Homo sapiens: one gene and its partners. The protein of the gene in region 1 interacts with the protein of each later gene in a pairwise test. Each region holds a gene or a part of one and is shown in the gene's direction. Other genes may lie near its edges.

Evidence for each region.
Region 2: the proteins of EWSR1 (region 1) and YY1AP1 interact in a two-hybrid assay, tested with the Homo sapiens proteins (2 studies listed by BioGRID and IntAct).
Region 3: the proteins of EWSR1 (region 1) and SEC24A interact in binary tests that used the Homo sapiens proteins (3 or more experiments, as listed by UniProt).
Region 4: the proteins of EWSR1 (region 1) and SEC24D interact in binary tests that used the Homo sapiens proteins (3 or more experiments, as listed by UniProt).

The regions. Positions count from the first base shown.
Region 1 is NC_000022.11:29,278,248-29,285,274, forward strand, and holds part of EWSR1 (RNA-binding protein EWS), read left to right. Parts: intron 1-4,142; coding exon 4,143-4,310; intron 4,311-7,027. UniProt on the Homo sapiens protein: Binds to ssRNA containing the consensus sequence 5'-AGGUAA-3'. Might normally function as a transcriptional repressor. EWS-fusion-proteins (EFPS) may play a role in the tumorigenic process.
Region 2 is NC_000001.11:155,658,940-155,664,787, reverse strand, and holds the end of YY1AP1 (YY1-associated protein 1), read left to right. Parts: intron 1-3,364; coding exon 3,365-3,481; intron 3,482-3,854; coding exon of another isoform or gene 3,855-3,874; coding exon 3,875-5,131; 3' UTR 5,132-5,334; downstream 5,335-5,848. UniProt on the Homo sapiens protein: Associates with the INO80 chromatin remodeling complex, which is responsible for transcriptional regulation, DNA repair, and replication. Enhances transcription activation by YY1. Plays a role in cell cycle regulation.
Region 3 is NC_000005.10:134,644,632-134,651,786, forward strand, and holds the start of SEC24A (protein transport protein Sec24A), read left to right. Parts: upstream 1-4,153; 5' UTR 4,154-4,445; coding exon 4,446-4,542; intron 4,543-7,155. UniProt on the Homo sapiens protein: Component of the coat protein complex II (COPII) which promotes the formation of transport vesicles from the endoplasmic reticulum (ER).
Region 4 is NC_000004.12:118,833,101-118,841,015, reverse strand, and holds the start of SEC24D (protein transport protein Sec24D), read left to right. Parts: upstream 1-4,889; 5' UTR 4,890-5,075; intron 5,076-7,278; 5' UTR 7,279-7,319; coding exon 7,320-7,437; intron 7,438-7,915. UniProt on the Homo sapiens protein: Component of the coat protein complex II (COPII) which promotes the formation of transport vesicles from the endoplasmic reticulum (ER).

The DNA.
Region 1 (7,027 bases):
TTATGTTGGAGGGAAAGAAAGCAACTGTGTACACTTAAAATAATCTGTGGTTTAGTTCCTTATTAGTGGTTGCTTTCATATACTCTCAGATGTTCACTGTTAGTAACTGATGTGCTAGAACATACCACAGAAATATTCTGCATTTAACAGTGAAATTGGCTGGGCGCGGTTTCTCATGCCTGTAATTCTAGCTCTTTGGGAGGCCGAGGCGGGCGGATCATATAAGGTCAGGAGTTTGAAACCAGCCTGGCCAACATGGGTGAAACCCCGTCTCTACTAAAAATGCAAAAATACCGGGGGGGCGCAGTGGCTCACGCCTGTAATCCCAGCACTTTGGGAGGCCGAGGCAGGGGGATCACAAGGTCAGGAGATCGAGACCATCCTGGCTAACACGGTGAAACCCCGGCTCTGCTGAAAAATACAAAAAATTAGCCGGGCATGGTGGTGGGTGCCTGTCGTCCCAGCTACTCGGGAGGCTGAGGCAGGAGAATGTCATGAACCCGAGAGGCGGAGCTTGCAGTGAGCTGAGATCGCTCCACTGCACTCCAGCCTGGGAGACATAGCAAGACTCGGTCTCAAAAAAAAAAAAATAGAAAAATTAGCTGGGCGTGGTGGCGCACACCTGTAATCCCAGCTACTGGGGAGGCTGAGGCAGGAGAATTACTTGAACCTGGGAGATGGAGGTTACAGTGAGCTAAGATGGCACCATTGTACTCTAGCCTGGGCGACAGAGGAAGACTTCACCTCAAAAAAAAAAAAAAGTGAAATGGTGCTATCGAAGGGTCAAAATGAGGAATGGCACTGAATAGGTTCTCTGGTTTCAGAATGACCTTTTAGGGTAGGAGAAGGCTATTGTTTTTAAACCCAGAAGAAGAGAGAGAGAGAGTGTGTGTGTGTGTGTTTTCACTCAAAACAGCATAACTGATAGAATTGTACTTTTGAATTGTACTTTTGATGCTTTTATCTTTGATTTCATTGACCCTGTAAATGGGTAACCGCTTTCTCTTTGGCAAAAACATGGTAGTTCACACAGGCAGGAGGGGAAGGGAGCATCATGTGAGTCAAGAAATGGTCGTATGACCTAATTGTCTGGAAAGGACATAACCATATTCAAGAAATCAAACATTACTGTCTCGGCTTAAGCAATTGACATGACTTCCCTACATTGTATAGAGGCTTAATCTAAATATTATAGGCAAATAAAAATTCTTAACTGGGTACCCTGCTATAGGATGAGCAGAGCTCATACCCCATGACTGGTTAGCAGGTAAACAGTATAATTATTACTTAACAAAAGATTTTAGATCTTTGCTTTAGGCAGTCACTTAACTGGCTTGTGTATACAGTCTTGAAAGGACATTGAATTCTGGTTTGAAAGAAGACATTTTAGGAAATCAACTTCTAACCTAGATATATCTGCTCTAGAGGTAAGAAATTAGCTCTGACAAACACTCGTGAAATTACTTTTAAAATGCACAGTGAGTAATCGGAGCCGCTTGGCAATTTACCCTTGGTAGACCACCTTTGCAGTAGCTAAGTTAAACTTAGTGGCTTATTCCTGAAAGGCCTCATTTCCGAGTGTCATCAGATGTATGAAGTCCCATTTGATACTCTGATGCAACAGTATATCCAAGCCATATCTGGAGGGTTTTATATATGAATTGGGTTTTGATAAGTCATCCTTTTTTTTTCTTTTCACTTGTTACCACTTTAAAACAGCTGTCTGTCTCATAATCAGTGGCAACTGCTTTTTCGACTGGAAAAGGGTATGGGACCTATTTCAGCTCAGGAAAAGTTAGTACTTCACACCCTCTCTGGTTTTTCTGGGTTGGTTGGTTGGTTGGTTGGTTTTTGAGATGGAGTGTTGCTCTGTTGTCCAGGCTGGAGTGCAGTGGCGAGTGCACCCACCACCCAGGTTCAAGCAATTCTCCTGGCTTAGCTTCCCGAGTAGCTGGGACTACGGGCATGTACCACCATGCCCGGCTAATTTTTGTATTTTTAGTAGAGGCAAGGTTTCACTATGTTGGCCAGGCTGGTCTCGAACTCGTGACCTCAAGTGATCCGCCTGCCTTGGCCTCCCAAAGTGCTGGGATTACAGGTGTGAGCCACCGCACCCGGCCTGCCTGTTGATTCTTTGGACTTTGCTTAAAATATTAATAGCTCTAACTCAGTCTGCTGCAGCCTTGATGTAAAGTGTTAGGGCCAAGAGGTAATAGAAACCCCTGGAGTTTTCCTTGGAACTGAGATTAATTTTCGTCATTTAACAGGGATACTTACTTCCAGGTTCATCTGAGCAGGGACTTGGGAGGGGTCTCTTTGCCTTACTCTGGTGTTTCCATTACGGAGACTTTGAGCCAAGTTAGATTAGTTTATGGCAGCCCAGTTTAGGAAATGATTTTTTTCTGGTTGGTTGGATGGTTTGGTTGGTTTTTTTTTTTTTTTTAAGATGGAGTTTTGCTCTTGTTGTCCAGGCTAGAGTGCGATGGCACAATCTCGGCTCGCTGGAGCCTCCGCCTCCGGGGTTCAAGTGATTCTCCTGCCTCAGCCTCCTGAGTAGCTGGGATTACAGGTGCCCGCCACTCTGCCCAGCTAATTTTGTGTGTGTGTGTGTGTTGTTTTTTTTTTTTTTTTTTTTTTTTTTTTTTTTTTTTTGACAGAGTCTTGCTCCGTCGCCCAGGCTGGAGTGCAGTGGCGCCATCTCAGCTCACTGCAAGCTCCGCCTCCCAGGTTCATGCCATTCTCCTACCTCAGCCTCCCAAGTAGCTGGGACTACAGGCACCCACCATGATGCCTGGCTAATTTTTTGTATTTTTAGTAGAGACAGGGTTTCACTGTGTTTGCCAGGATAGTCTCGATCTCCTGACCTCGTGATCCTCCTGTCTCAGCCTCCCAAAGTTCTGGGATTATAGGTGTGAACCACCGCTACCAGCCAATTTTTTGTATTTCTAGTAGAGACGGGGTTTCTCCATGTTGGCCAGGCTGGTGTCCAACTCCTGACATCATGCAATCCACCTGCCTTGGCCTCCCAAAGTGCTGGGATTATAGGCATGAGCCACCGCACCTGGCAGTTTGTTTTTTTTGAGATGGAGTCTCTCTGTTGCCCAGGATGGAGTACGCGATCTAACAGCTCACTGCAGCCTTCACCTCCCATGCCCCAGCAGTCCCTCCCACCTCAGTCTTCCAAGTAGCTGAGACCACAGGCATGTACCACCATACCTGGCTAATATTTTTCTATTTCTGTAGAGGTGGGGTCTCCCTATATTACCAGGCTGGTCTGAAACTCCTGGGCTCAAACCATCCTCCTGCCTCAGCCTCCCAAAGTGCTGGGATTTTTTTTGTTTGTTTGTTTTTGAGACGGAGTCTTGCTCTGTCGCCCAGGCTGGAGTGCAGTGGCGCGATCTCGGCTCACTGCCAGCTCCGCCTCCTGGGTTCACGCCATTCTCCTGCCTCAGCTTCCTGAGTAGCTGGGACTACAGGCGCCCACCACCATGCCTGGCTAATTTTTTTTTTTGTATTTTTAGTAGAGACAGGGTTTCACTGTCTTAGCCAGGATGGTCTCAATCTGCTGACCTCGTGATCCGCCCTCCTCGGCCTCCCAAAGTGCTGGGATTATAGGCATGAGCCATTCTCGCCTGGCCTTGACCTGGTCTGTTTTTAATAAATGAGAAACATAAACCCACAAATTCTCTAAATTTATGATGCCATGGACTTACGTAAATGTTACTTCAACCTAAAACTTAACATTATTGTTAGTTTCTGGTCTTCAGCAGTCCCCTTTGAGAAAAAGCATTTATTCCCTAACAGATCACTTCTCCCGGATCACCTAAACTGGTAGCACACAATATCGCAACGCACTTTTATAGCGTTTACTGTGATGAATGGAGCATATTAATGTCTCTTCTGTGGATATGATTGATTCTCCCCCTTCCTTAGTGTTGTCTTCAAGCAAATATAGTTGGACCGACACTGAGTTTGATGTAGTTTACTTTAGGATTGTATTTATTATTGTATTTATTTCCAGGCTTAATCATAACATTGCTTATTGCTCGTAGCTTTGTAGCATTCTTACCCAGGAGTTTTGTGGTTGACCAACCACACAAAAAAAGTCACTTTTTAATTTTATTTATTATTTCTCCTCTTAGACCGCAGGATGGAAACAAGCCCACTGAGACTAGTCAACCTCAATCTAGCACAGGGGGTTACAACCAGCCCAGCCTAGGATATGGACAGAGTAACTACAGTTATCCCCAGGTACCTGGGAGCTACCCCATGCAGCCAGTCACTGCACCTCCATCCTACCCTCCTACCAGGTCAGTCTACTTTTTGTGGCAAAACAAAAACAGTGACAAAACAGTTTTTTTCAGGTTGTTGACCAGCTTGCTTTGACTTCTTCAGCTAAGGTATGTTATCTGACTGTCGCAGTGATAAGTCATCTGACCATACTTGGTTACATTAAAGCCTGAGATCTAGGGTCCCATAGTGTTGCCTGGCAGCTAATAACTATTCTTTTTTCTTTTTTTTTTTTTTTCCCCCGAGACGGAGTCTCTCTCTGTCGCCCAGGCTGGAGTGCAGTGGCGCGATCTCGGCTCACTGCAAGCTCCACCTCCTGGGTTCACGCCATTCTCCTGCCTCAACCTCCCGAGTAGCTGGGACTACGGGTGCCCGCCACCACGCCCAGCTAATTTTTTGTATTTTTAGTAGAGACAGGGTTTCACTGTGTTGGCCAGGATGGTCTCAATCTCCTGACCTCGTGATCCACCCATCTCGGCCTCCCACAGTGCTGGGATTACAGGCGTGAGCCACCGCACCCGGCCCAGCTAATAACTATTCTTTCTAAATACAAAAACATTTTTACCACTCTAAGTTCTTTCTTTAAGTTTCTTCCTTTTGCTGTTTTAGTTAACTCAGATGGGAAGCAGAAGTATATGAAAGCATGTAAATAGATGTAAGAGCCATCTTCCCCAATGCAGTTAGGATAAGTAAAGCGCAGGGCATTATAATTCACCTTAATCATTTTACATTTTACCTAACACATAAAGGTTTATTCATGCACTAACCTTTTAATGTATGGGCCAACTCTTTTTATTTTATTTTTATTATTATCGCCTGGCCAAGTTTTCTTTTTTGAGACAGAGTCTCACTCTGTTGCACAGGCTGGAGTGCAGTGGCACGATCTCCGCTCACTGCAACCTCTGCCTCCTAGGGATTCTCATGCCTCAGCCTCCCGAGTAGCTGGGACTGCAAGTGCATGCCACCACACCTGACTAACTTTTCTTTTTGTTTTATTGTTGTTTTGAGATGGAGTTTCGCTCTTGTTGCCCAGGCTGGAGTGCAATGGCACAATCTCGGCTTACTGCAGTTTCCACCTCCTGGGTTCAAGTGATTCTCCTGCTTCAGCCTCCTGAGTAGCTGGGATTACAAGTGCTCACTACCACACCTGGCAAAAATTTTTTTTTTTGTATTTTTAGTAGAGACAGGGTTTCACCATGTGGGCCAGGCTTGTCTGGAATTCCTGACCTCAGGTGATCCACCCGCCTCCACCTCCCAAAGTGCTGGGGTGACAGGCGCGAGCCCCTGCGCCCAGCCAGTTTGTTTGTTTGTTTTGAGATGGAGTTTTGCTCTTGTTGCCCAGGCTGGAGTGCAATGGCGTGATCTTGGCTCACCGCAACCTCTGCCTCCTGGGTTCAAGCGATTCTCCTGCCTCAGCCTCCCTAGTAGCTGGGATTAGATACAGACGCCACCACAACCGGCTAATTTTGTATTTTTAGTAGAGACGGGGTTTCTCCATGTTGGTCAGGCTGGTCTTGAACTCCCATCCTCAGGTGATCCGCCTGCCTCGGCCTCCCAAAGTGCTGGGAATACAGGCATGAGCCACTGCGCCTGGCCCAGTTTTTGTATTTTTAGTAGATACAGGGTTTCACAATGTTGGCCAGGCTGGTCTTGAACTCCTGGCCTCAAGTGATCCGCCCACCTTGGCCTCCCAAAGTGCTGGGATTATGGGATTACAGGTGTGAGCCACCATGCCCAGCCTGCAAGTTTTCTTAACCCATGTTTAATTAGATGTGGGTTTTCAAATTGTTTGAATTGTGCCCTGAAAGTTTTGCTAGAAGTAGCGGTTCCCTTTTTTGCACTCATTTCATTGTTTTGCAGCAGATGTGAACAGGTTTAGGAACAAGTAGAATTGATTGGGTGTCTCTCCATACAGCCAGCTTGGAGCAAAAGTGGGTAGGGCTTACAACCCTTCTTCCACAGAGCAGGTTCGTACCTATTGCATTGAGAGCAGTTAATAGCAGTTAATCTGGCAAGTTGGATAGGTACACAGTGAGAGATTATTGAATTCATACAGCAATGGTGAGGGATGTGGTGTGTTAGAAGCTTTGTTTGTTTGTTTATTTTTGGAGACCGGGTCTCACTCTGTTGTCCAGGCTGGGGTACAGTGACACAGTCGTAGCCCCCTGTAGCCTCGAACTTCCTGGCCTAGTTTAATCGGACTTTAAAATATGTGTCCTTACTGTTTCTCATCATGATTTGTAAAGCTTAATACCAGATGGGTTTTTTTGTTTTTGTGTGTGTTTTGTTTTGTTTTTTTGAGACGGAGTTTCACTCCTGTTACCTAGGCTGGAGTGCAATGGTGCGATCTTGGCTCACCGCAACCCTCGCCTCCCAGGTTAAAGTGATTCTCCTACGTCAGCCTCCCAAGTAGCTGGCATTATAGGCATGTGCCACCACACACAGCTAATTTTGTATTTTTAGTAGAGACGGTGTTTTTCCATGTTGGTCAGGCTAGTCTCGAACCCCTGACCTCAGGTGATCCACCCGTCTCTGCCTCCCAAAGTGCTGGGATTACAGGTGTGAGCCACTGCTTCTGGCCCTTGTTTTTTTTTTTTTTTTTTTGAGATGGAGTTTTGCTCTGTTGCCCAGGTTGGAGTGCAGTGGCGCTGTCTTGGCTCACTGCAGCCTCTGCCTTCCAGGTTTAAACAGTTCTCTTGCCGCAGCCTCTCGAGTAGCTGGGACTATAGGCGTGTGC
Region 2 (5,848 bases), on another chromosome or scaffold:
AAAAAAAAAAAAAAAAAAATCTCCATTCATGGTCTTTTGATTGTATCGATGTCAGTTTCCTCGTTTTTGTTTTTGTTTTATTTTTTTTCTTTTTTTGAGACAGAGTCTCACTGTTGCTCACTGCAGCCTCTGCCTCCTGGGTTCAAGCGATTCTCCTGCCTCAGCCTCCTGAGTAGCTGGGATTAGCCACCACACCCAGCTAATTTTTGTATTTTTAGTAGAGATGGGGTTTTGCCATGTTGGCCAGGTGATCTCGAACCCCTGACCTCAAGTGATCTGCCCACCTTGGCCTCCCATAGTGCTGGGATTACAGGCATGAGCCACCACATCCTCCATGTCTGGCCAGTTTCCTGGTAGTAATATTGTACTGTGTACCTTGTTTATATGTATAGCTCTTGTTTCTATGTAACATAAAAACATTATATTGGGAGAAACTGGTTGAAGGGTACATGGGACCTCTTGGTACTATTTTTTGCAATTTCCTATGAATATAATTATTTCAAAATAAAAGGAAAAAATAATACTCTCCTCTGTCACTGTATCTAGAATTCTAGATAGGAAATAATTTTTTTAAGAAGCTTTTAAGGGCCTCACTTCATTTTCTTCTAACTCCTAGTGTGGTGTTAAGAAATTTCATGCCATTTAACTTTTTTTTTTTTTTTCCGAGACAGGGTCCCACCCTGTTGCCCAGTTTGGAGCGTGGCTAAATCATGGCTCACTGGTGTCTCCAACCCGGTGTGCACCACTATGCCCAGCTAATTTTTTTTTTTTTTTTTTTTAAGACATGGTCTCGTTATGTTGGCCAGGCTGGTCTCAAACTCCTGGCCTCAAGTGCTCGTCCTGTCTTGGCCTCCCAAAGTAATGGGATTATAGGCATGAGCCATGGCCCCATTTAACTCTTGAGTCTTTGTGTAACACCTGTTTTTCTCAACCTCTGACAGCATGCAGGATTTTTCCTTTGGCTTCAATATTTTGAAAATGCATGATAATATGCCTTAGTATTTGTCTATTTTTATCCATGGTTTTTTAAAAAGTACTTTCTTTTTGTTTTTGTTTGTTTGTTTGTTTTGAGACAGAGTCTCGCTCCATTGCCCAGGCTGGAGTGCAATGGCGTGATCTTGGCTCACTGGAACCTCTGCCTCCCAGGTTCAAGCAATTGTCCTGTTTCAGCGTCCCGAGGAGCTGGGACTACAGGCGCTCACCACCACACCCTGCTAATTTTTGTATTTTTAGTAGAGACGGGGTTTCACCTTGTTGGTCAGGCTGGTCTCAAACTCCTGACCTCGTGACCCACCCACCTCAGCCTCCCAGAGTGCTGGGATTACAGGTGTGGGCCACCATGCCTGGCGTATCCATGGTTTTAAGGCACACGTGATAAACCTTATTCTTCTGCAGAAATAATTTTTTTTTTTTTTTTTGAGATGGAGTCTCACTCTGTTGCCAGGCTGGAGTGCAGTGGCGTGATGTCGGCCCACTGCACTCTCCACCTCCTGGGTTCAAGTGATTCTCGTGCCTCAGCCTCCCGAGTAGCTGAGATTACAGGCACGCGCCACCACACTTAGCTAATTTTTGTATTTTTAGTAGAGATGGGGTTTCACCATGTTGGCCAGGATGGTCTTGATCTCCTGACCTTGTGATCTGCCTGCCTCGGCCTCCCAAAGTGCTGGGATTACAGGCATAAGCCACCACGCCTGGCCAGAAGTAATTTGTGTTTAAGTTTTAGTTTTGTGTCATTTTTCGTGCACACCTTTGTACTTTTGTTGGGGGATGGGGCGGGGTGTCGGGGTTGGAGTCTTGCTCTGTTGCCCAGGCTGGAGTGCAGTGGTGCAGTCTTGGCTCACTGCAACCTCTTAATTCCTCAGTTCAAGTGATTCTCCTGCCTCAGCCTGCCAAGTAGCTAGGATCACAGGCGTGCACCACCACACCCAGCTAATTTTTTTTTGTACTTTATTAGAGACAGGGTTTCGCCATGTTGGCCAGGCTGGTCATGAACTCCTGACCTCCAGTGATCCATCCTCCTCGTTCTCCCAAAGTGCTGGCATTACAGGCATGAGCCACCATGCCCAGCCCTTTGTACATTTTTTAATGTAGGATGCCATTTGTCCACTTGACTCTCCCACTAGTCTGTAAGCTCCATGAGAGCAGGAATTGCTTCCCTTATGTGTGTGCTTAGCTTTTAGCACAGTGCCTAGGATATAGAAAACATCTTATGTTCATCATGTTGGATGAACAGATGCTTATTGTCATGGTTTAAGTTCAGTTCTTATCTTCTTTTTTTTTTTTTGAGATGGAGTCTCACCCTGTTACCAACGCTGGAGTGCAGTGGCATGATCTTGGCTCACTGCAATCTCCACCCTACCACCCCCACTGCCAGGTTCAAGCGATTCTTTTGCCCCAGCCTCCCAAGTAACTGGGATTACAGGCACCCACCACCACACCCAGCTAATTTTTGTATTTTTAGTAGAGATGGAGTTTCACCATGTTGGCCAGGCTGGTCTCAAACTCTCAATCTCAAGTGATCTGCCCGCCTCAGCCTCACAAAGTGCTGGGTTTACAGATGTGAGCCACCAAGGCCAGCCTATTTACTCTTAAAACTGAACTGCCTCGGTCTTTTTTTTTTTCCTTCCCTTCTGATGCCCTTCACACCATCATTTGCTTAAAGTCTTTGATGTGTCCATTTTATAGATTACGATGCTGTCTTTGCAGCTGTTGAGCAGGAACAAATCTTACATAAGATTGCTCTTAGCATCTGCTTCCTTTTCTCTCTGTGACCTAAACTCTCCCCTTCCTGGCAACCAGAATGGAGATCATCAGTTAGAAAATATTGAATAGGGCTGGGCGCGGTGGCTGACGCCTGTAATCCTAGCACTTTGGGAGGCCGAGGCGGGTGGATCACGAGGTCAGGAGATCGAGACCATCCTGGCTAACACAGTGAAACCCTGTCTCTACTAAAAATACAAAAAAATCAGCCGGGTGTGGTGGCGGGCACCTGTAGTCCCAGCTACTCCGGAGGCTGAGGCAGGAGAATGGCGTGAACCTGGGAGGTGGAGCTTGCAGTGAGCGGAGATCGCGCCATTGCACTCCATCCTGGGCGACAGAGCAAGACTCCGTCTCAAAAAGAAAATACTGAATAACTATAAAATCTTTAAATAGAGATTAGTTTAATTTGAAATGTACAAGTATTCAGCATATGCTATTCGTATATGTGTGTTCATGGATGTTTGTGTATGTGGTCTTGTGTGTGTGTGTGTGTGTGTGTGTGTGTGTGTGTTTCTCTTGATCCACCACCACCCCATTCACCAGCCTGACAGAAGACAGTGTTTCCAGAAGGAATGTAATTCATGCGCATTTTTTTCATGTTAAGTTTTATAAGAAGACCAAACAGCTGCCAGTCCTAGGAAAATGCTGTGAAGAGATCCAGCCACATCAGTGGAAGCCACCTATAGAGAGAGAAGAACACCGGCTCCCATTCTGGTTAAAGGTACAGCCCTCTTCCTCGAAGTCTGTAGGAGGCAGAAGGTCACTGAAAGTTCTGAGAGAATATCAAGGACTTCCTTAATCGTCTAATGCTTTAGTTGTAGAACTAGGACTTCAGGAATCTTCCTGATTCACCTTTCTTCCCTTACTTTTCTGCCCTTCTCCGGGTGATTCTACAACATTTTCAAAATAATGGGTAAAATGGTAATTTGCTAAAGGAAATTCAGAGAAGAGTTTCTAAAGTGTATAATTGGACTGTGGTCTTTGTAGAAATTTCATATGCAGAGTCCCTTGGAAAGATGCCTTGAGCTTGTCTCAGGTCCCTAAACTTAGAAAGTCCTATTCTTTTTCCCAAATTCTGACATGTGCTGGATCAGAGTGTTCTCATTTCCAATAGGCCAGTCTGCCATCCATCCAGGAAGAACTGCGGCACATGGCTGATGGTGCTAGAGAGGTAGGAAATATGACTGGAACCACTGAGATCAACTCAGATCAAGGCCTAGAAAAAGACAACTCAGAGTTGGGGAGTGAAACTCGGTACCCACTGCTATTGCCTAAGGGTGTAGTCCTGAAACTGAAGCCAGTTGCCGACCGTTTCCCCAAGAAGGCTTGGAGACAGAAGCGTTCATCAGTCCTGAAACCCCTCCTTATCCAACCCAGCCCCTCTCTCCAGCCCAGCTTCAACCCTGGGAAAACACCAGCCCAATCAACTCATTCAGAAGCCCCTCCGAGCAAAATGGTGCTCCGGATTCCTCACCCAATACAGCCAGCCACTGTTTTACAGACAGTTCCAGGTGTCCCTCCACTGGGGGTCAGTGGAGGTGAGAGTTTTGAGTCTCCTGCAGCACTGCCTGCTATGCCCCCTGAGGCCAGGACAAGCTTCCCTCTGTCTGAGTCCCAGACTTTGCTCTCTTCTGCCCCTGTGCCCAAGGTAATGATGCCCTCCCCTGCCTCTTCCATGTTTCGAAAGCCATATGTGAGACGGAGACCCTCAAAAAGAAGGGGAGCCAGGGCCTTTCGCTGTATCAAACCTGCCCCTGTTATCCACCCTGCATCTGTTATCTTCACTGTTCCTGCTACCACTGTGAAGATTGTGAGCCTTGGCGGTGGCTGTAACATGATCCAGCCTGTCAATGCGGCTGTGGCCCAGAGTCCCCAGACTATTCCCATCGCCACCCTCTTGGTTAACCCTACTTCCTTCCCCTGTCCATTGAACCAGCCCCTTGTGGCCTCCTCTGTCTCACCCTTAATTGTTTCTGGCAATTCTGTGAATCTTCCTATACCATCCACCCCTGAAGATAAGGCCCACATGAATGTGGACATTGCTTGTGCTGTGGCTGATGGGGAAAATGCCTTTCAGGGCCTAGAACCCAAATTAGAGCCCCAGGAACTATCTCCTCTCTCTGCTACTGTTTTCCCCAAAGTGGAACATAGCCCAGGGCCTCCACCAGTCGATAAACAGTGCCAAGAAGGATTGTCAGAGAACAGTGCCTATCGCTGGACCGTTGTGAAAACAGAGGAGGGAAGGCAAGCTCTGGAGCCGCTCCCTCAGGGCATCCAGGAGTCTCTAAACAACTCTTCCCCTGGGGATTTAGAGGAAGTTGTCAAGATGGAACCTGAAGATGCTACAGAGGAAATCAGTGGATTTCTTTGAGCTAGGAGAATAAGAGTCTGGAGACTGGGAGCCTTCACTTCGGCCTCCGATTGGTGGCGCATAGGGTGTAACCAATAGGAAACCCCTAAAGGGTACTTAAACCCCAGATTTTGCAACTGGGGCTCTTGAGCAGCTTGCTTTAGCCTGCTCCCACTCTGTGGAATATACTTTTGCTTCAATAAATCTGTGCTTTTATTGCTTCATTGTTTCATTGATTTGTGCAATTTGTTCAGTTCTTCATTCAACATTCCAAGAACCTGGACAAATTGTAGTCAAGACCCTCCGACAGTAACATATTTTGGCAAGCCAGCCTGGAGGTAAGTCCAAATTGCGGTGCAGGGGAAGGGGGCGGTTATTTTTCTTTTCTTCTTTCCTTTTTCTTTCCCTGTCAAGCCTTCATTTTTCGGCATGGGCTGGAGCTATATCTCTGTGCAGGGCTCCACTCCATACAGGGGAACCTTTTCCTCTCTCTCTTTCCCTTTTCCAACTTGAGACTCAGCAGATAGCATGTGAACATGGAGGCAACTGCAGGTCTCTGGCCAGGGCCACTCTCCAGTGAGACTGAAGGGTATCCACGTGGAAGCACCTGATCACCATCACCCAGTTTGGGTGACAGACCTGAGTTCTCTTTTTTTGAGTCTTTCAGCTGCTGTTTTCTAACAGCTCTTTGGTAATTGAGGGCAACTGGACAGGGCCACTCTCCAGTGTTACCTGAAG
Region 3 (7,155 bases), on another chromosome or scaffold:
GCTCACTGCAACCTCTGCCTCCCAGGTTCAGCAATTTTCCCTGCCTCAGCCTCCCAAATAGCTGGGATTACAGGCGCCCGTCACCATGCCTGGCTAATTTTTGTATTTTTAGTAGAGACAGAGTTTCATCATGTTGGCCAGGCTGCTCTCGAATGCCTGACCTCAAGTGATCCACCCACCTTGGCCTACCAAAGTGTTGGGAATACAGGCGTGAGCCACAACGCCTGGCCAAGAGCAATTGTTATAATTGCTATCACCAATAATTTTTTCATATTTCTGTGGCCACACTTAAATGAGTCATCAAATGATTTGATATTGTGTGGATAATACTTAATATGAAAACTTTTAAAATATGTTGTCCCATCTCAGTTACTTAAACTTACCTTCCTACTATCCCAAAGGTTAGGCAGATGACAAATGCTGTTTTTCTTCTGTCTCTCTCTCTCTATATATATGTATATATGTATTCTGAGACAGGGTCTTACTCTGTTGCCTAGGCTGGAGTCCAGTAGCACAATCAACCTCCCAGGCTCAAGCGATCCTCCCATCTTAGTCTTCTGAGCAGCTGGGACTACAGGCATACGTCACCATGCCCAGCTAATTTTTTGTATGTTTTTGTAGAGATGGAGTTTTGCCATATTCCTCAGGCTGTTCTCCAACTCCTGGGCTTAGGGGATCCACTTGCCTTGGCCTCCCAAAGTCCTGGGATTATAGGCGTGAGCCACCATGCCCAGCTCTCCTCAATACTGTAGTGCTGATTACACCGAGAGTGTAAAAACCATTTGAAATACTTAATCATTGCTTTGAGGACACGAACAGTAACATAGCAACTTAGGGGTGGAACAAATTTTAGAGAAAGCATTGTTTACTTATTAGAAAATTATTTATGTTGATTTAACCTGATTTAACCAACTAGACTACTTTTTAAAATCTCTGGGGCCAGGCACGGTGGCTCAGGCCTGTAATCCCAGCACTTTGGGAGGCCAAGGCAGGTTGATCACCTGAAGTCATGAGTTCAAGACCAGCCTGGTCAACATGGTGAAACTCTGTCCCTAGTAAAAATACAAAAATTAGCTGGGCATGGTGACATGCGTCTGTAGTCCCAGCTACTCGGGAGGCTGAGGCAGGAGAATCACTTGAACCCGGGAGGCAGAGGTTGCAGTGAGCCGAGATCGCACCACTGCACTCCAGCCTGGCAACACAGCGACATTCCGTCTCAAAATAAATAAATAAATAAATAAATAAATAAATAAATCTCTGAACACACAGATATTGCTTAAATAGCTTGAACCCGGGAGGCAGAGGTTGCAGCAAGCCAAGGTCGCACCACTGCACTCTAGCCTGACGACAGAGCGAGATTCCGTCTCAAAAAAAAAAAAAAAAAAAAATCTCTGAACACACAGATACTGCTTAAATAGCACAAAGTTCAAAGAAACCTTGATTTAACCAAATCAAACCACTGTGCCAAGGTCAAAACAAATCAAGATCATTCAAAAGGAGCTGAATAAAAAGAGATAATTAAACTAATGCAGGTTTGAGATCAGGTATTTGCCTCTTTGAAGAGTGACCCTGATTTTGTCTGACCTCAGAAAGGTTGTTTCTCTCTGAGCTCTATTTCCTCTTCAAAACATTGAGAGGCTTGTGTCTGTGCAATTTTAAAGTGTTTTTGGATCTATAACTTGGGATTTTGTTATAGTGGCTCCAAACTGTAAACAATTTGACCAAAAGTATCATCTTCATCTTAAGATTTTAACTGGGCGTGGTGGCTCAAACCTGTAATCTCATTTTGGAAGGATGAGGCAGGAGGATCTCTTGCAAGACCTTCTCTTTACAAAAACAAACAAACAAACAAACAAACAAATAAAAACCTAGCCAGGCATAATGGCACACACCTGTAGTTCCAGCTACTCAGGAGGCTGAGGCTGGAGGACTGCTTGAGCCCAGGAGGTTGAGGCAGCAATGAGCTGTGACTGCACCACTGCACTCCAGCCTGGACAACAGACTGTCTCAAAAAAAAAAAAAAAGTTATTGTACTTGGATCTTGTACAAAGGAATTGAATTGTTAAATGCTACTTACAGCAAATATTTATTTATTTTTATTTTTTATTTTTTGAGACAGTCTTGCTGTGTCAGCCAGGCTGGAGTGCAGTGGCACAATCTTGGCTCACAGCAACCTCCGTCTCCTGGGTTCAAGCAATTCTCCTGCCTCATCCTCCTGAGTAGCTGGGATTACAGGCATGTGCCACCACACCTGGCTAATTTTTGTATTTTCAGTAGAGACAGAGTTTCACCATGTTGGCCAGGCTGGTTTTGAACTCCTGACCTCAGGTAATCCGCCCGCCTTGGCCTCCCAAAGTGCTGGGATTACAGTTGTAAGCTACCACGCCCGAGCAAATACATTTTTAGTAAAGTTCTGAGGCAAATGATGAAAACAGGGTTAGTATAAAATTTAGTATTTAGTTATTTGAATTTTTACTGACCTTTTTTAGGCCTGACACAGTGGTTTATTCTTTTTCTTTTCTTAGAGACAAGATCTCACTCTGTCATGCAGGCTGGAGTGCAGTGGTGAGATCACAGCTCACTGTAGCCTCGAACTCCTGGGTTCAGGTGATCCTCCCACATCAGCCTCCTGAGTAGCTGGGACTACAGGGATGTGCCACCACACTGGCCACTTTTTAAAAATTTATTTAATTAAAAACATTGGCTGGGCATGGTGGCTTACGCCTGTAATCCCAGCACTTTGGGAGGCTGAGGCGGGTGGATCAACTGAGGTCAGGTGTTCAAGACCAGCCTGGCCAACATGGTGAAACCCTGTCTCTACTAAAAATACAAAAATTAGCCAGGCATGGTGGCAGGAGCCTGTAATCCCAGCTACTCGGGAGACTGAGGCAGGAGAATTGCTTGAACCCAGGAGGCGGAGGTTGCAGTGAGCGGAGATGGCACCACTGCACTCCAGCCTGGGCAACAGACCAAGACTCTGTCTCAAAAATATATATATATATATATTTTTTAAATAGAGATAAGGGGACTCTCCCTGTTGTCCAGACTGGTCTCAAACTCCTGGCCTCAAGTAATCCTTCTGTCTCAGCCTCCCAAAGTGCTTGGATTACAGGAGTGAGCCACCTTGCCCAGCCCGACACAGTGGTTTAGATCTGGCTTTTTTTTGTATGTAATATAACACTTCATAGCAGGCATTTGGTATTAAATGAATTAGGTAAGATGTACTTCACACTGAGGTTTCGAAACCGCGTGGCATGACATTTTAATCCACAGTACAAATCTGTAAAGGAGGGCTTTATCGTCAGCACAGAGCAGGAAAAACCTAAATAGAATGAAGGCAGCTAAGATGATTACTCAATCATTAATTAACTATGTTGTCCAATCACCGCAGTTTCGACCTCCCTTTGGCTTCAAAAGTCAAAAAAGTCAACTTGCAAAAAAAAAAAAAGTCTACTTGCTCTGAAAGGAAGTTTGAGTTCTTTACCTTACTGTAAACTCTTAGAAGAGGAAACAAAACTGCCATTTAAATGTGCTAATGAACTTGAGCGTGACTATGCTGTGAATCAGCGAGTTTCAAAATTAAAATTCCTCTGAGTCCTCCAGTCAAAGACAAAGGCCTCCTTCTTGGCTTGATCACACTATTAACATGTACACATATTTAACCACCTCTTTTTAAAACCCCTTATAATTTACATCTGAAACACGAAGACGAAATGTGAATGAAATACTGCGATGAACATTAACCGCCCCAGCTCCCAGTGGTGGTACGGTCTCAACAGAGGACGATGACTTCTATGGTCTCAGGTAATCTTCACAAAACCCGAGGAGAGGAACTGTCAGTCCCACCCCACGAAAGCGGCTACTGAATCTCAGATTGCCCCACGATCCTGGCTCTGCGAGCGAGGTCACGTTCACAACGGCGGGAATTTCCGTAGCGGTGACACACGGCACTTCCGGCCGGCCGTGAGAGTCGGTGACGTGGCGGCGAGGCCGGGCACGGTCGTCGGGGTCGGGGCACCAGGAGCTGTCAGGTGGCCTCGGGGCAGCCCGGCTGGCAGAGAAGAGTTCGCCGGCGCGGCGGCGGCTGCTGCGAGCCCGGAGCCGGAAGTGCCACGTGTCCTGATTGCGGCTGCGCGGCCGGCGGCTGACAGGCACTTCCGGCCAGGGCCTCCCTCCTTCTCTCTAGGTTTGGCTGCCGCCTTCTAGCCGGGCGTTCGCGGCCCCGCCGGCCCGACTCTCAAGCCTCAGCTCCCAGGCTAGGCTGTGGCCGCCGGTGGCCTGGGGAGAGTGCGGCGCCATGCCTCGGGCTTAATGCGCCCCCCCCTCTTCTCCCAGTCTTCAGTCTTAAGTCGTTAGCCTCCTCCCTCCGCTTTCAGCAGTGGTCTTTCAGCTCTCTTCTTGTGCGCTGTTGTCGACCCCGACCAGCCCCTTCCAACCCAGTCATCATGTCCCAGCCGGGAATACCGGCCTCCGGCGGCGCCCCAGCCAGCCTCCAGGCCCAGAACGGAGCCGCCTTGGCCTCGGGGTCTCCCTACACCAACGGTGAGTGCTGTCCGGGGGGAGGGCGCAGCCTGGCCAGGGCTGACTGACCTTTGCGTGCCACTGCTGCTTGAGGCGACATAGATAGAGAGAGTGACCTCCTTACCGGGTTCTGGCGCGGATGGTGGTGGGCGGCTGGGCCAGGGGACCACGGCAGTTGTGCACCTGTAGCCCCAGGCTCGTCTCAGTCTTTCACATTTATTTAGTCGGTCACCAAAACAGTAAATGAGCACCTGCTGTATGCAACGCCCTGGGTGAAACACGGGTGAGAAAATGCCTCAAAACTCGAATATAAGGATCATAGTGTTTGTGTGCCTTCGCCTTCCTTGCCACCTCACCCCAGTCTCCTAGAGAGCAGGATGTGGGGTCTGATTCTTCTGGGTTCCGCAGGCCCTGAAGTGGGGTGGGGGTCGTACTCAGTCTGAGTTTCTGGAGATGAATGCATGCTTTTGGGACACCCCTTTAGGGCCTACTCATCTCTCCCAGAACCTTCCCAGAATTGTACCTACAACAGCTGTTCAATGTTTCAGCTGTGGAAAAACCAAATAGAAGGGAGGATCTCCTGGTTGACTTCTAGATGTCTGGACAGCATTTGGAAAGTGGGTGGACACAACTCTCTGAATCTCTGACAAGAGTCTACATGTACATTATAGTTTGTCATTTGATGTGAGAATGTCTTATAATTTTATACCTCTTCTAGGATTCCTTAAATCGTCCTACATTGTGATTTGCTAAGATTATTTCAGTTGTTACAATAGACAAAGACTTTCTGCCGACAGATTGCCTACTTACCAATTTACTTACAAATCTTTGGTTTACAGAAATAAGACTAGTAGAATAATGCTAAAGAACTTAAGTTGCCCATTAGAGTCTAAGAGTTCTGTGAAGTTGGAGAATACAGACAGTGACTAAAATCTCTAATTTACATTGTTTTTAGAGAAGACCGCTGTTTTCTTTACAAAGATGGCTCTAAAAGACTTTTAAAAATGTCTGTGAGTAGGCAACTATGTGGGCAGAAGAAAGAATAAGTGGAGGAAAGCCACTGAAAGGGTACTGAGTTAACCATTCTTTCTCAAAATTATGGTAACAGATTATGTACACTACATTTTATTCTAGAATATTTAGTAACATTTACACTGAGGATGAGAAAAAATGTTACATGGCTATGGATTTTTCTTATAATCTATAAATTGCAGTTTTACATTAACTTTAAATGACAAATCCTCAAATGTGCTTCAACATTTATATATGAGTGTAGTTGTCATAATATTGAAATGTTAAAGGGATTTGACCACTGTGGTATGCTGTATTAGAGATACTGTCACTATGTTGATTTGATACAGTCCAACAGACATTTGTTCCACATCTTTTTTTTTTTTTTTGAGATGGAGTCTTGTTCTGTTGCCCAGGCTGGAGTGCAGTGGTGGTGATCTTGGCTCACTGCAACCTCTGATTCCTGGGTTCAAGCGATTCTCCTGCCTCCTTAACCTTCCAAAGTGCTGTAATTACAGGCCTGATCCACGGTACCCAGACCTCTTTTTTAAAATATAATTTTCATAGTCTTTTTATAAGTTCCATTTCTACAGGGTTTTTTGTTTGTTTGTTTGTTTGTTTGTTTTTTGAGACGGAGTTTTGCTTTTGTCTCCCAGGCTGGAGTGCAATGGCGCTATCTCGGCTCACTGCAACCTCCTCCTCCCAGGTTCAAGCAATTCTCCTGCCTCAGCCTCTGAAGTAGCTGGGATTACAGGCACGTGTCACCACACCCAGCTAATTTTTATATTTTTAGTAGAGACGGGGTTTCACCATGCTGGTCAGGCTGATGTCAAACTCCTGACCTCTAGTGATCCACCCACCTTGGTCTCCCAAAGTGCTGGGATTACAGGCATGAGCCACTGTGCCTGGCCTCTACAGGTTTTTTGTATTTTGCCTTTTTTTTTTTTTTGAGACAGGATCTTACTTAAACTGTCCCTCAAGCTGGAGTGCAGTGGCAGGATCACAACTCACTGTCACTCCTGGGCTCAAGCAATCCTCACACCTCAGCCTCCCCAGTAGCTAGAACTACAGGTGCATACCACCAGGCCCCATTTTTTATATAAGTATATAATATATATATATAATGTATATATTTTATTATTATTTTTTGAGTCAGAGTTTCACTCTGTTGCCCAGGCTGGAGTACAATGGCTCGATCTCGGCTCACTGCAACCTCCATGTCTCAGGTTCAAGTGATTCTCGTGCCTCAGCCTCCCGAGTAGCTGGGATTACAGGCCTGTGCCACCACAACCGGCTAATTTTTGTATTTTTAGTAGAGATGGGGTTTCACCATGTTGGCCAGGCTGGTCTTGAACTCCAAACCTCATAATGATCCGCCCACCCTGGCATCCCAAAGTGCTGGGATTACAGGCATGAGCCACCACGCCCGGCCTAATGTAAAGATATATGTATATTATATATATAATGTTTTATATATATTTTGTAGAGATGAGTCTCTCTATGTTGCCTAGGCTGGTCTGAAATTCCTGACCTCAAGTGATCCTCCTGACTCAGCCTTCCAAAGTGCTGGGATTAGAGGCATGAGCTACCAAGCCTAGCCTGGGTTGTTTTATTGTTCATCCT
Region 4 (7,915 bases), on another chromosome or scaffold:
GAGAAATATAATATTCCTAATTTACAGTGAGTAAACCAAGGTTTAGTAAACTTAGAACATGCATCTATTCTAGGTTCCCAGGGGTTTCATCCTTTGACTTTACTCATATGGCTTCAACTGTCACTTACATGTTGTTAATAATGATTGGGATGATGATGCTACAATGGTAACGTTATTGATCAGTTGTTATGTGCCAAACATTGTGCTGAGTGATTTACTTGTATTATCTCATTTAATCCCCACAACGACCTTTGAGATTATTATTATTATTCCTTCAATTTTTAAAGATAAAAATACTGAGGTTTAGGGAGGGTACACACAGCTTATAAAGGACAGAACCAGAAGTCATGACTTGGTCTGACTGCAGAGCCTGATTGATCTCTTGCCTGCCAGATTGATTTTTAAATTTTCATTGCTGGCTGCCTTATACTACCTCCAGTTCAGATTTGTCTCCTAGCTGCAGACACACGTATCTCACAGGTGACTGGACACTTCCACGTAGATGTCCCACAGATAGCTCAAAATGAACTTCTCCAAAACTGAACCCATCCCCTCCCCATATCGGCTCTCGTTTTTGTTTCCCTCACCCCTTATATAGCTCTACCATTCATCCACTAATTCTCACAGATCAAAAATCTGAGTGTTTGTCTGTATTCTGCCTCACTTTCCTGATTTCTGTACCCAGTCCCATTGATACGCCTTCTAAACCTCTTTCCCACCTGTCTGTCCTCTCCACCCACATCTCCACTGCCTTTGCTTAGGCCACCATATTCTCATCTGGATTATTGCTGACAGTGTCCTAACTCTTCTTTACCCCACCAGTCTTGCCTTTTCCTCTCTTCCACTCTTTCACTAACTCCAGACTGATCTTTCTGGAAAGAAAAAAACAATCCACTGTGTCATTCCCATGCTTAAATTGTTCCATTGCCTTTCCAGTGCCTTTGAGGGATCCATGAGCTACCCTAGCCTACCTGCCTAATCTCGTTTGCTTTAGAAACCCATGTCCAAGCTGTACAGGACTTATAGCCCCTCTGAATGCCCTATGTTCCTCATCTTCCTCAACTCATTCATGCTATTCCCTGCTGCCCTTCAGCCTTTTTTTTGGCCTTATTACTGTCCTCAGGTCCTCAGCTCAGGTGCCACCTCCACCAGGGAGATGTCACTCACTTTCCAAATCTGGGTTAAGTGTCCCTTCTTACATGTTCTCATGGCAACCTGTGTCTCTTCATGGAATGAAAATGAACTATATTGTAATTGCACATCCTGCCAGACCAGGGGGCACCAAACTTTTTTCTGTAAACGGCCAGATAGTATATATTTTAGGTTTTACAGGCCTTATGGTCTCTGTCACAACTACTTAACTCTACCTTTATAGTACAAAAACAACCACAGAATATATGATAATAGAAAAGCATGGCTGTGTTCCAAGAGAACTTATTTATGTCCACTGAAATTTGAATTTCACATAATTTTCATGTGTCACAAAATATTAAAAAAAATTTCAACCATGTAAAACTGTAAATGCCATTCTTAGCTCGAAGGCTGTACAAAAACAGGTGGGTAGGCCAAATATAGCATATCAGCTGCCACTGGCTGATCCTTGCACTATTCCATGAGCTTCTCACAGCCAGGGCAGTGTCTCATCTGACTTTGTATTCAAGTTCTTAGTACAGTATCCAGTTTATAGTAGGTGTTTAATAAACGTTTGTTGAATAAGTAAAACTTGCACAGCTAGTAGTAAGTGACAGTGTCAGGATTCAAACCTGAGTCAATCTGAGTTAGCAGTGTGATGTCCCACTGTCCATTTTGTGATTGAAGCTGTATGTGATGTAGTATACTTACAGCATGATATTTGAGATATCAAAAAAGTAATTCTAGAAGCACCTTGGGTATTACTTGAACTCTATTATTACTGTTATTAGTTGCTACTCAGCCTACCCTACCATGTACCCTTCCCATCATCCCCGTTTAACTTGACCTTATTTACTCCATTTCCAGGTATTTAAAATAGTCCAGGATTTGGCCACTTCAATTTTTTTTTTTTTAAATAAAGCTTCTTCAAGCTGTTTTCAGCTTTGGAACCAGAAACCTCCAAACTTTGTAAGTTACATAAATGCTTAGTACATCATAACCTTCAAAAGGTTGCCAATTAGAAGAAATCTTAAGCATTGTCAGGAAATTCCTTCTCTCTATATATAGCCTTATGCATAGTAGACTTGTTGCTTTCTTTCCCTTTTAAAGTTGGAACATAGAACATAAAACCCCAGTACGTCGGCATTGTGAGGTCCTTGTGACCTCACCTTTCAAATAGGATATGGTTACCTGGGAAACTAAGTTAATTACATATGGAACATCAGAGGCTAAGCTCAGGTGGCAACAGGATGGGTCAGATCAAGGAAGACTGAGACTCCGGACCAAGCCTCACGGCTGGTGAGGGCCAGGGACTCAATCACAGGAACAAGGTTAGGAGTTAGTCACCTAAGGCATAGGCACTTGGGGACAGGACAAGAGAAGCAGGACGCAAACCAGAAGCCCGTTTCATTTAAAAAAGAGATTCATGATAAGTAACTCCAATTGTTGGTGGAACTATGCAGTCAGTTAATAGTTATTTGAGAACTTGAATATAAGGCAGTCACAGGAGAAAAAGGCAGAACTAGTTAAAAGAGAACAGCAAATCAGAGTATCAGAAGGTAAAAAGCATAGGGAGGTGAAAAGAGCTTTGGAATTGGAAGGGATGACTTCCAACTAGCTATAAATGACTAGTAAGCCTTTTAAATTTTCTCAATAAACCTTTCTATTAATCCATTAGATGATTAAATTGAATTCAGTTCTCACTGAATATTGAATTGAATACTCATATCGCTAAAGTCCCTTCCAGATTTTATTTTTTGTTTTTTTGAGACAGAGTCTGGCTGTGTCGCCCAGGCTGGAGTGCAGTGGCGTGATCTCTGCTCACTGCAAGCTCTGCCTCCCGGGTTCACACCATTCTCCTGCCTCAGCCTCCCGAGTAGCTGGGACTACAGGTGCCCGCCACCATGCCCGGCTAATTTTTTGTATTTTTAGTAGAGACGGGGTTTCACCGTGTTAGCCAGGATGGTCTACGATCTCCTGACCTCGTGATCCGCCCGCCTCGGCCTCCCAAAGTGCTGTGATTACGGGCGTGAGCCACCGCGCCCGGCCAAGTCCCTTCCAGCTTTAACATTTAGGAATTAAAAACTGTTTTAGAATTGAAACCACAAATTGTCCTGGTTTCAGACAAGTTTGGTACCTGAGCAGGAGGTGAGGATGTATTTACAATTCAAAAGTAGTGGTTTTATAGGGGTAACAAGTCAAGCAGGTCATCACATGGTGTGACTGTTTCTGACTTTACTCTCTCCTATCTTTGTATCATAGCTTCACTCGCTCCTTGTAATGTAGCTGTTATATGACAAGTTCTTTCACTGCTTTTACAAGCTGTACTGCTTCAACACCGGCCAAAACTTCCTAAACTTCCACTGAACATTTTCATCACATTGAGAATACAAGAAACAATTTAAAACAAAAATTTCAATGTGGGTTTTCAAACCTGATCAGTGTTGAAGCTGGATGTAGGCCAGATATCTTACCTTAAAATCTTTTTTTCTTTTTCTTGAGACAGGGTCTCACTCTGTTGCCCACGCTGGAACGCAGTGGTGTGATCATAGCTCACTGCCTCCTGGCCTCAAGCAATCCTCCCTGCTTGGCCTCCCAAAGTGCTGGGATAACAGGTGTGAGCCACTGTGCCTTGCCCCATGCCTTAAAAACTTTTAAGAGTGGGATAAATGGACCATATATCTTTACTGCTAAAATGACTTAAAATTCCTGCACAATTCATGTAGCATTTCGGGAGTAGCAACATCCCCATGTACGTTTTTACCTAGGCAGTTCATCAGTAAAGGTATTTGTCAAGTGGCTTTCTTGTAGCCGGGAAGAAAGTGCATGTTAAAAACAACAACACCGGGCTGGTTTTTACTTTGTAAGTTTGAGCAAAGTGGTAGCTATACCAAACCTGGGAGTGGCTGAATGTCTTTCTATTTAGCAGTGAAAGATGATAGGAAACCAGCCAGATGGTCCTGATTTTAGGGTGAGATAGAGAGGTAAGCTCCAGATCTCATATAGGTTGCCTTTATTTCTGAGCTGTTTCTCACAGGACGGTGAGCTAAACGCTGGGTGCTTTTCCATGCAGAGATTCCTGTTTGGGGCTGGGATCAGCCATCCTACTTCACAAACAAGGAATATGCGGAAGAAGGAGTATACACAACGCTAACAACCCCAATATCAATGGAAACCCCACTTCCCACACTTTTCCTTTGGGACATCTCCCCCACCCCCCACTCCTCCCGCGTTACACGTTGCCAGGCTGCTTTGGGCGTTCCTTCCTCTGTAGTGCATTGCACGGGTACGTCATCAAATGTGCGTGTACACGTGCCAGATTCGCCTTTAAACGGTAATCTCCCCTAGGTCCAGATCGTGTACTTTCCCGTATGTAACGGTAGTGCAGTACCTGAACTATTAGTTATTTAAGTAATACGTAATGAATGAAGAGCTGAAACTGCAACCTGTTGATGGAAGAATGAATGAACGCGCTCCCCTCCTTCCTGCGGGGCTGCGCCGAGAAAATACGGTTCTGATTTAGCCACGACGTTAAAGGCTTTGACCTGTAGGGGGAGGGGAAAGAAAAGACGGGAAAAAGAAAACCAAAAAACAAAAAACCGGAAAAAGGGAAAAAGCGAAAAGGGGGAGGTCGCTCGGCCGCTCGCAGGCTCAGCCCGGTGGCCCCGCCCCGCGGCGGCCGGTGGCTGTGCGCGTGCGCAGGCGGGAGCGCGGCGGCTGGTCCAAGCCCGGCGCTGGGGGCGCGCAGCCGAGAAAGGGTTTGACGTGGCAGTTCCCAGCCCAGCTGCAACTCCGAGCGTGAGTCCAGGCTAAGGGGACGCCGGCCGGGGAAGAGGCGCGGCGGGAGAAGCGACCGCAGCGGGAGCCCGGCCACCGAGGGCTGCCGGCACTAGGCGCAGAGCCGCCAGCGCTCGGAAGCCCGCGGGGTGCGGGAGCGGGAACAGGTAAAGCCTCCCACCCGCGGACGCCTTCATGCGGGACAGCCCTGCCCAGGCACAGCGGAGCGGGTTGCGGCGCCCGGCCCGGGGACGCGGCGGGAGGCCGGGTGCTCACCTGAGGCAGTGGCGGCGGGAGGAGAACTCATTCTTTGTTCTTTAGCCTTCTAGTGCAGTTTAATAGTGGGGCCGGCGGGATGGGGGAGCAGGAGGTGGGCGTGGGCATTTTTTACCCGCCCCCACCTTTTGCCTTGGGATGCAGGAACTGCCTTGTTAGGATCCTCAGTGGCCACCATTCGAGTGTCATTGCCAGCGGTTTTCTCATCTCCTTATCAACTTAATTTCCTTTTTTGAAGGAAGGAAATGTTAGAAATATTCATGGTAAAAATGGCAACTATATCTTGAAGCCTCGGGACATCCGAATAGTGAAACTGATCTGGCCAAATACGAACTTGTTCCAGGGTTAGAAGTGCACCTTGGCTAGAGTTGCTGGGTGACAGTGAGCCAGGGGGCCGTTCTGGGGTTGGGGCTCCCCAGATTTTGATCCTAGGCCTGCTTATACCAAGTGGCTTTCTGCCGTGTCGCCGCTTGAAGCTGAGTCAGGTTTCTTTAACTTGGTGCTCTGTGTGAGGAAGTTTGACGTGGCAAACTGGGTTGCGTGAGGAAGCTGATTCCTCTGAGGACCAGTTCAGAGGGAACTGGCTGCTTCCTGTTCTTTGGAGTGACCATCTCAGCCTCTCTTTTCTGTCACTCAGCAACAGGCTGCTACTTAGGTGTGTTCGTGCCGACTTCCTAAGTGCTCTTGGTTGGATGAGCTTGACCAGCGCTCAGGCTGCCACGTCTCTCTCTGCTAAGTGGGAGGAGGAAAAAGGGGTTGTCAGAAACAAAGTGGACCAGAAGGCCTTTGCCTGCCTCTCTCCTCTTTTTCAGTTCTCCCCTTCCCAGGAGAAGGAAATGATCTCATAATATTTTTACATGGTTGCTTTTATTTTGGAAACTTATAGTTTAATATGGAAACAAAATCAAATCACAAATTTTAGGCTTCAAATTTTTAATTTGAAATGTTATTTCTTGAATATAGACAGATTCTAAGTCTTAGCAGGTATCACTGATCTCTTATCTTAAATTGTAGCAAATAAAAGAACAAAAGGAAGAATATGCTTGTATGGGGCAAATAAACTGGAGATAAATTGTAGAATCAGTGGAAATCTGGAAAGGCTTCATTTTCTAAAAGAAGGAACTGAGGCTTAGAGAGGTTCTTCAGCTCATTCCATGTCACACAGTTAAGTATGGCAGACATAGAATGGAAACCCACTTCTCTTGCATTCAAAGCATTTTCTGTCGTATTTAATTTTTTTTTTTAAATCATCAGTCCTATGAAATATCTCTTATTTTGTTAAAACCTGGAAAAAATAGAAAATTTAAAGCAAATTTGGGTTCTGATTAGAATCAAGATTTAAAAAAAATCAAGATGAGTCTGTTATATTTGTGATGTGTGTGCCTACACACTTACAAAATTACACTTTTTTTCCTTAGTCCCCTAAATATAGGTGCATATGTTCTTAGAGATGTGATATGATTTAAATTAGAAAGAAATTCTGTCGCCTTTGAAAAACCACTGACAACACTCAAGTGGTTATAGTGACCACCTGGCTCGGTCAAATTATGACTCATAAAATAAGCCCATTATCAACGTTGTCTGTTGCTATGTTTGTTGGACTATGATTTCTCTTTGTCCTAATGACTAGATTAAAATAATTAATTAGATGAGCACTAAAAAGACGTAAGTCATAAAACATCTGATTGCAGGCTACTGGCAGTTATGGTGGTCAGTCAATTGAATGGCATGGTGTGCTCTGTGCTGAAATGTGACCATGGAAACCAAAAGCACAAAATCATAGGAACACTATGAGAGACTATCTGTGAGATGCTTCAGGCTTCCATTAAAAAAGTGGTTGCGAGTTATTATTCAGGTCTCATGCTTGAGAATTTGCCCAGGATTATTGAAGTGATTTACTGAGTTTCAGAGAGCTATGGTTAGGCCCTTTTTAGGGGATAATGATATATTGTATAATACAAAGATTTCTCATGTACCTGATATCTGTACTTTTCCTCAAACCATCATAAACATGTAATAACAGTGTTTATATTTTTAATAGCTTTACGTAACTAAAACTGTCTTGGTAACATGTTTCTTGTTTCTCTGTTGCAGACTTCTTTTGTAGAATTATCCTATGGAATGATATTTTCATAATGAGTCAACAAGGTTACGTGGCTACACCTCCGTATTCTCAGCCTCAGCCTGGAATAGGCCTTTCTCCACCTCATTATGGGCACTATGGGGATCCGTCGCACACAGCATCTCCAACAGGTACAGTGTGTTATTTTGACTTGTATGTGATTATTCAGTTCTCAGGCTCAGAGACATAAGATGTTCTGAAAGAGGAGATTTGAAAGCATTGAATGATCATTATATAATGAAATGGCTTGAGATTACAGGATCATTTGGAAAAGGCTCTCATAGCAGAACTCTACATCACTAGTTTGGTTATTGCATGCAATACAAGTTTGGTTTTTAAATATAGACTAAAACAAACACTTCCTGTTTTATTTTTACTGTGAGTCTTGTTCTTGCTGTTAATTAGTGGTGTAAGGCTATTGTAAACATTGAATAAAAAAAGAATTAAATTTATAAATGAATTAAATTCACATATCCTTATCTAGGATTGGCCCTAGATAAATCTGTACATCATGTGAGGATAATTCTTTGTACAATTCTTTGTACAAATGGACCATGTATAAATCAATGAGTAACTCTCAGGGCTCACTGGAACTAGCTTAGATATCTG